Regions from separate parts of the Homo sapiens genome. Here region 1 is linked to region 2. The links come from fine-mapping of genetic effects on gene expression. Tissue or cell type: sun-exposed skin. Region 2 holds a variant in brackets; the other region holds the start of a gene. All regions are shown on one strand. Distances are from middle to middle.

Region 1 (4,174 bases), 200 kb before region 2:
ATTTGAACGTTTACTTCTTTTGACTCTGTTTTAATTATTTTAATAAATGTAATTTTCTCTTCTGGTTAATGTATGCCATATTTCACTCAGGGGAACTGAAACAAAAATTAAAGTTAAAACGTGTTATTCAACATTCACAGAGATAAATAGTGTTAAATTAACTTTCAAATGGTGTTCTTATAAGTTGCAGCATTTATAGCCTTGAGGTTACTAAAACTGCAGGAAGACTTTTGGGACACCCTGTTTTTGAATAAATATGCTTACAGCATGGCTCCTCCTGTGTTTACTGTAAAATTCAGTTTAGTTTTTAAGTGGTTCCACGTGGGCACAGGTATTCTTTGGCCAGTAGTTGTCCTTATACTTAGACCCAAGGAGCCCTTGTCCAGGGCCCACACTTTAGAAGGCAAATTCCAAATTCCCTCCCCAAATGGCACTGAGCCTGCTTCAAGGGTCTGCACGCCAGCAGCAGTGTTATCTGCTAATGTCTGTACTCCCATGGGCGAACATTGCTGACTCTGGTGTTCATACTCTTGTGCCCAAGAGGTGGCTGGGGGACAGCTGCTTCTGGGAAGCTTGACCGAGCTTCCACCAATGGACTAGAGCCCTGTGGGAAGAGAGGAGGTGGCTGCAAACCAGGAACTGGAAATCGCCTCTCCCTGCACCATCATATTTAAGTGCAGATCATCCAAAGTTTCAATCTGGCCTTTCATGTCAATTCCCAAGGTATATTTGTCTAGGTAGGAAGGTAGAACTTATTGTACTTAATCATTTGTTAACTTTGTTTATAACTTTTAAATATTTAGGTATCTGGCCTACAGATCTCTGTTTGTACTTTTGCCCTGGGTCCTGCATATATTAAAGGTGGGCTGATTTTGGCCTTAAAAGAATTATTTTCCCACAAACAGATTTTTCTCCTTAAAGAGCTAGGTGGGTAGGAAGTACTTCCATATGGAAGGTATGATAGCAAAGAATGACTGCAGTCACTGAGCACATACTTTGTGCTGGGTGATTTACACATAGTTTTTCAGTGAGTCCTCACAACAACCCAATAAAGTAGGTACTTAGGAGAAAACAGATATTCAGTGACATTAGTTTGTTCCAGCTCGTAAAACTAGTGCTTTAGTTAGCCTTAGTTGCATAACAAACTACGCGAAACTGAAAGTGGCTTAAAACAATTTTTCCCCCTGACTGTCGGGTTGGCTGGGCTGCTCTACTGCGGGTTTCCCTGGGCTCACTCCTGCAGCTAGCTGTGAGGAGATGGAGGTTGGCCCGGGACAGTGCAGAAGATTCCCCGTGGCCTCTCCCACCTGTCTGGCAGTTGACGCTGCTGTTGCTGATAATGATGACCCTCCTTTATTTTGTGTTATCTACTTGCCATTGCAACCTCCTTGCCTTTTTTAGTTCTTGCTCCCGTACTGTCTGGCTCGATGCCCAGCACCTGGTGGTGGCTAATAATATACACTCAGGTCACTTACAAGCAATGTGACCCTGGATGGGTTACTTAACCTCACTTAGTTTGTGTCCCCCAATTGCAAAATGGGTATAATGGTACAGAACACATCAGGTGGCTCTGAGACTCCAGCGCAGTGATTCAGGAGAGTGCTTGGCAGGACAGTGGCACTTGGTGCGAGCTTACTGCTAGTGCAGCTGGAATGTAGACCATCAGCGAACGTGTGTTGCCTTTTTAAACAGTGGGAATCAAACACCACTCGCTTTCCAAATGTAAATCCTGGGCTTGCAAGTAAGTCCTAGAGTGCAGAAATAATTTCAAAATACAGGGTTGAAATTTTAAGATAGCAGCTTTTAAAAACTGGGAGACAAAATCAAAATAAAACAAAGGGACAAACCAACCTGAATGGCACCCCGCCGATGCTCTTCATTAATTTTTAAGATTCCACCCTGGGGCTGCTTGCTTCTTCCAGCATGGGAAGCGCTGACTTGATGCGGCCAGGTTTCTGGGACCAGGAGGTTGGGACACGACGACGCACTTTTTGCCCTGTGGGTCTGGGTCATGTGAGCCTAGAGGAGCGCTTAAAGGCTCGAGTTCTGCAGGGTCCTCGTGACTGGGTGGGGCTGCCTCACTTCTGCCTGATTTGGGAAGCGCTGCAAGGACAACCGGCTGGGGTCCTTGCGCGCCGCGGCTCAGGGAGGAGCACCGACTGCGCCGCGTAAGTGCCGCCTGCCCTGCGTGGGTCGTGCCAGCTCAGCGGGACAGGTCCTCGCCTCGGTCCCTCGGACTTAGGGAGCGCGGGGCAGGTAGTCTCAAAAGCCCTCAGCACCAACAGGGGAGAAAGCACCGTAGAGTGAGACTGGAGTGGGGTGGTCGTGGCCGAGTCAAAGTTCAAATTGGAGCATTGGGGATGTACTGCGTGCGCCCAGCCGAGGGAATACTCTTGAAGTTTCCTGGCACAACTGTCGCACCCGGGGTTCTTCCAGGCTAGAAGCCGTCTCCTACTCCAGGAGCTCCTCCGGGGAAGTACGAAGCTGTGGGGTCCTCTGCCGCTCTTAGCGCGGGAGGGTGGCGGGTGCAGGACACTTTCCCTTACTCCCTCAACGCGTGTTTTGGGGATGTGTTGATTTCGTGGGTGCTCAGAAGCAAGAGAAGCGGAAAATACCTTCTATTTTGAACGTGCCCAAAGCAGGGAAACTTGGCTTCTGCCTAGGAACGCATAGGAAGACTTTTATTCTTGGAATGTAGGATTAGCAGAAACCAAGGGCACAGGAGACAGGTGGAAGCAGCTCCCTGTGAAGTGATACAGAAACAAAAGGACTTTGGAATATTTGTGGATTTAAATCCCAGTTCTGGCCTTGGCTAGTGAGTGACCTCGGGCAAATTATTTAAGCCTACTAAACCTCAGTCTTTCCATCTGAAAGATGGAGATAATAAGTTTTTCTTTTTAAAGAATTGTTTTATTGGAAATAGAAATAACATACAGAAAATGCCTCCCTAGCACGGGACTTGGCTTTTCAGCTAAGTGTAATTTTCCTTATCAGTTATGATTGATGATGAAGTCTATGGTGAAGACAGAACAAAATAATGTTTAAAACTCTGGCCATATAATGACTGTGGCTATGCATGACCCGTGTGCAGTCACCTCTGAGCCCCCCACCTTCACTGCAACCCCAGTGGGTCCCAAGCAAGGTGCTTGGGTTTTGGAGCTGGACAATTCTGTGCAATTCCTGGTTCCGGTATCCACTACTTGGATGACATCAGGGACGTAACTTATCTTCCACAGCCTCAGTTTTGGCATCAGTAAATGAAAAAGGAGCCCCTCAGTACTTGCCTTTCCCTTCCCCGGCTAAATGTACAACTCATTTTTTTTCCATTCTTTGCTTTGGGATGAGTAAGAACAAAGATGTAAGCAGAGTAAAAAGTCCATTGAGAATACATTTTATTAGCTTGGTAAATAACGTTTAAGAAAGTTGTCCAAAAGGAGAATTGGAGCACTTTTGGAAAAGTACACTGCACCGGCTTTGTTGGCATATGAAAGTCTGCATGGTCGTCAAGACCGTTTGGCTAACTGGGCATTCTAGATGTGTACCTCATGCTAGTCTAAGTACAGGGGCAACCCTTTATAATGTAGTGTCAGTGTTCTTAACCAGATGTTGTTTTATTAATCTTTTATAGGAGATGATTGTTTGGGAGGGGCAATTGATCCCCCAATTTATATAAATCCAGTTTATAAATCACTTTATAGTGGGATTCTACTAGCCTGAGAAATAGGTGGGTTTTGACTGACAGTTTGAATGACTTAGAAGAGTGTTAAGAAAGTCCACTGGGTTTACCAGTTCACTCCCCACAAAAAATAAAAACAAGAAGCAAATAATATAACAGAATTCTAAAAATGAGTTTGTTTTTGTTTTGGGAAGCATCTAGTTTGTCAGAGGAAACACTGAGTGTTGAATACTACCCTGGGATGCACAGAACTAAGGCAATGAGAGGGGAGGAACTCAGTTCTTGCCCCAGGTATCATCAGATATCTGTTTATTAGCACCCAAATACTCAAGGTAAATAGTAATGACCCATTCTTTCTTTTTTTGAGACAAGAGTCTCACTTTGTCACCCAAGCTGGAGTGGCACCATCTCTGCTCACTGCAACCTCCATCTCCCGGGTTCAAGGGATTCTTGTGCCTCAGCCTCCTGAGTAGCTGGAATTACAGGTGTACACCACCA
Region 2 (4,352 bases):
ACTTCTGTATACCCTTGGGCCAGCTTTCCTAATTGTTAATATTTGTCCTGTTTGCTTTCTCATTCTCTCTGTCAACTACTTAAGAATAAACTACAGACATTATAGGTTTTTTTTTTTTACCACTAAATATTTCAGTTGTATTTCTGAAGAATAGGACATTGTCTTACATAACCACAGTACAATTATCAAGATCAGAAAATTTAACCCTGATAAAATGCCATTATCTAATCCACAATCCATATTCAAATCTATCAACTGTCCTAATAACATTCTTTTTAGCTGTTGCCTCCTGGTGCAATCTAGGATCATGCATTAGCTATCATGTAGCCTCTCTTTCCATTTTCTTTGCTTTGATTTTCTTCTTTCCTAAAGTAAGCTATATTGAGGTGTAGTTTACATACAGTAAAATTTACCCCTTTTGAATGTATAGTTCCATCAGTTTTCACAAATGCATACAATCATTTAGCCAGCACCATAATCAAGATATAGACCATTTCCTTTACCACAAACAGTTCATTTGTGCTCCTTTTAGTCAATGCCCTTTCCCATAAATTCAATCCCTGGTGATCTCAGATTTAATTTCTCTCCCTATGGTTTTTCCTTTTCTAGAGTGGCATATACATGGAATCATACAGTATGTAACATTTTGTGTCTGGCTTTTTGAGTAGTATTCCATTGCCTGAACATACCCCACATTGTTTATTCATTCACTGGTTCAAATTGGTTTTAAAAATAGATCCATACCTTATGGTGTGAGATATGGATCAAGCAAGCAAGCAAGATTAATGTTTTTTTGTTTTGGTTTTATTTTTTCCATATGAATATATAGTCATCCAGTACATTTTGTTATATATAAAAGATAACAACCAATTTTTCAGCATTGAATGACCTCTGCAACTTTGTTGAAAACAATCAGTTGGCCCTATATGTGTGTCTATTTCTTGAAACTCTATTCTGGTCCACTGATTCGTATGTCTATTCTTGGTCCAGTACCAAATTGTCTTGATTACATAGGCAGTCTTGAAATCAGGTAGCATAAGTTCTCCAAATTTATTCTTCTTTATCAAAGTTGATTTTGGCCAATTAGCTTTTTGATTCTCCATATAAATTTTATAATTGGCTTGTTATTGCCTGAAGAAAAATGTCTGGTGGGATTGTGATCTTGATAGTATCTTAGTCCATTCAGGCTGCTGTAACAAACTACCATCAACTGAGTGGCTTGCAAACAACAGAATTTTATTTCTCACAGTTCTAGGGGCTGGAGAGTCCAAGACCAAGGCTTGGGCAGATTCAATGTCTGGTAAGGGCCTGCTTCCTAGCAGACAGCTGTCGTCTTGTTCTAACCTCACATGGTGGACAAACCAAAGGAGCTCTCTGGGGCCTCTTTTTATAAGGGTACTAACCCCATTCATGAGGGCTCTCTCTTCATCACCTAATCACCTCCCAAAGGCCCCACCTCCTAAAATACCATCACCTTAGGGGTTAGGATTTCAAGGTATAAATTTGGGGAGGGAGGAGACACAAACATTTAGACTGAGGTAGATTGCATGAAATCTATAAATGAATTGGGAAAGAATTGACATCTTAACTGACTCTTGATCTGTGAATGCAGTGTGTTTTTTAATTTATTTAGTTCTTTGTAATTTATCTGATAAATGTCTTAAAGTGTTCAGCCAACAAATCTTAAATCAAATATTGTTAGCTCTATAAGTATTTCATGATTTTGATGTTATATAATAACATCGAAAGTATACATGGCACTTTTAGAAAATTTCAGTTTCCAATTGAACATTTTCTAGTCTATAGAAATAAGTTGGATTTTATACATTGACCATTAAACTTAGTTCTTGTAGTTTTTTGGCACATTCTTTTGAATATTTCATGCATATAATCACATTGTCTGTGATAAAGATAATTTTATTTTTTCATTCC[C/T]GTTGGTATGCCCTTTATAAATTTTTCTTGCCTTATTGCACTGGTTAAAAACAGCAACAACTCGGGAGGCTGGGGCAGGAGAATCACTTGAACCCGGGAGGCAGAGGCTGCAGTGAGCCAAGATCACCCCACTGCACTTCAGCCTGGACAACAGAGCAAGACTCCATCTCAAAAAAACAAACAAAAAACCAAAAAAACAGCAACACACTGTTTAATAGCAGTAGTAAGAGAAGGCTTCCTTGCCTCACTGCTAATCTTAGGAGTAAAGCATTCAATCTTTCACATTAAGTATGATATCAGCTCAGTGTTTTCATGATGCCTTTCATCAGATCGAGGAAGTTATAATTTGCTGAGAAGGGATGTTAAATGTTGCCAGTTGCTTTTTCTGCACTATTGAAATGATAGTATGACTTTTCCTCTTTAATCTGTTGATATGGTGAAAATTACATTGATTGATTTTTGAGTTTTGAACCAACCTTGCAACTAAGTGGGACAAATCCCACCTAGTTATGATATATTATCATTTTTATATATTACTGGTTTCAAATTCTTCACATTTTATTAAGGATTTTTGTATTTATGTTCATAATGGATTTGTCTCCAGTTTTCCGTTTTTTTGTAATGTCTGTTTTTGGTTTTGGTTTCAGAATAATGCTGGCCTCATAAAGTAAGTTGAGAACTGTTTCTTCCAATTCTATTTTCTGGAAGAGCTTCTATAGAACTGGTATTATTTCTTTTCTAAATGTTGATAGGTTTGCCAGTGAAGGCTTATTTGCTTGAAGTTTTCTTTGTAGAAAGGTTTTTTTCCCCATGAATTAAATTTATTTAATGGATTTAGGATTCTTCAGATTATCTAATATTCTTGGATGAACTTTAGTAATATGTGGCTTTCAAAGAATTTGTTCATCTCATCTAAGCTATCAAATTTATTGGCATAAAGCTTATTGGAATATTTTCTTCTTATTATTTTTAATATTAGTAGAATCTATAGTAATGTTCCCCACTTCCATTCCTGATACTGGAAATTTGTATCTTCTCTCTTATGAGCCTTGGTAAAGAGTTATCAATTTTATTATGTCACATACAGATTTGTTTGTCAAATAACATGTCCATAACCTTTAAAAACTGTTTCTTTTTTAGCCGCATTTATTGTGTATAGTAAAAAAGAATTTTTTTTTTATTTGACAGGCTATGTTTTTTGAGACTTTGTACACATGGACAGGTATTCTTAAATTTGTGTAATCTTTAGGCTAATATATACAAATTAGCACCCAGAAATATGTTTTCTTTATACTTAGCTCTTCTCTTTCCTCAACATTATGTAAAACATGGGGGGAAACCCTTTCCAAATAAAATTAATATGAGACTCCTTTTATAATGAACAGCTCTATAAATCAGATTACATTTAGGTCACATCTAAGAAAGTTCCAGTGAAGGAGAGTAAATAATTGTGTCTGCTTAACAGCCCTGTGGTTGAGGCTTTTGGTGTCAACTTCAGAACATTATCAATCCTGGTATCATGATTTCCCACTTAGACATCTTTCTGAGTATTGCATTTGCTTGGAAAGGAACCCTGTGCTCTTTTTGGCAGCATATATACTAAAATTGGAATGATACAGAGAAGATTAGAAAGGAATCCTGTCTTGCAAAAAAAGCAATAACTGTCTATTGTGCACATTAAATTTTAAACAAGTGCTCAATCTGAAACCAAAATTGGTTGGAGAAGAGGAGCACAATGGATTAGAGATATGGTAGAACTCTTATTTTGTGGAATAATTCATAGATGCTCCTCTCCTGGTAAGGACTGTGGCAAACTTACTACTATACAATCACCACCAGGTCTCAAAATTGTAGATAGACAAATAAATAGCTCATTGTTTAAAAGAAAATAAAAATGCTTAATTTTAATATTGCCTACATTAAAGATATTACTGACTTACAATATGGCAAATCTTATAGAAGGGAGAAGCTGTATTTGAGATTTTTATCTTGGTTTTATACATGTATTAAGAAACCTGTAATCCTAGCACTTTGGGAGGCTGACATGGGAGTATCGCTTGAGGCCAGGAGTTCGAGACTAGCCTGGGCAATATAGGGAGATCTCGTCTCTACAAAAAATTAAAAAGAAATGATTAGCCGAGCATGGTGGCACATGCCTGTAGTCCCAGCTACTCAGGAGGCTGAGGCGGGAGGATTGCTTGTGCCTGGGAGGTTAGAGGTTGCAGTGCAGAGAGCTGTGATCACACCACTGCACTCCAGCCTGGGCAACAGAGCCAGACCATCTCTGTCTCTCTCTCTCTCTCTTTCTCTCTCTCTCTCTCTATATATATATATACACACACACACATACATATATATACATGCATATGTACACATGTATTATTTAATTTATGTAAGACTCATTAAGCATAAACTACTTT

Evidence for each region. PIP is the estimated chance that this variant, and not a neighbour inherited with it, causes the effect.
Region 1: it holds the start of CPVL, and the variant in region 2 is fine-mapped to the expression of CPVL in sun-exposed skin (GTEx, PIP 0.96).

Annotation. Positions count from the first base shown.
Region 1 is chr7:29,144,423-29,148,596 of GRCh38, reverse strand. CPVL (carboxypeptidase vitellogenic like) reads left to right here and starts at 2,060. Exons shown (of 13, transcript NM_031311.5): 1 at 2,060-2,168. It also overlaps a transcript of CHN2 not described here.
Region 2 is chr7:28,943,693-28,948,044 of GRCh38, reverse strand. No RefSeq gene overlaps it. Among named protein-coding and RNA genes, the nearest start is that of TRIL, 12 kb to the left of the region's middle. The variant C/T (reference allele first, on the strand shown) is at 1,933.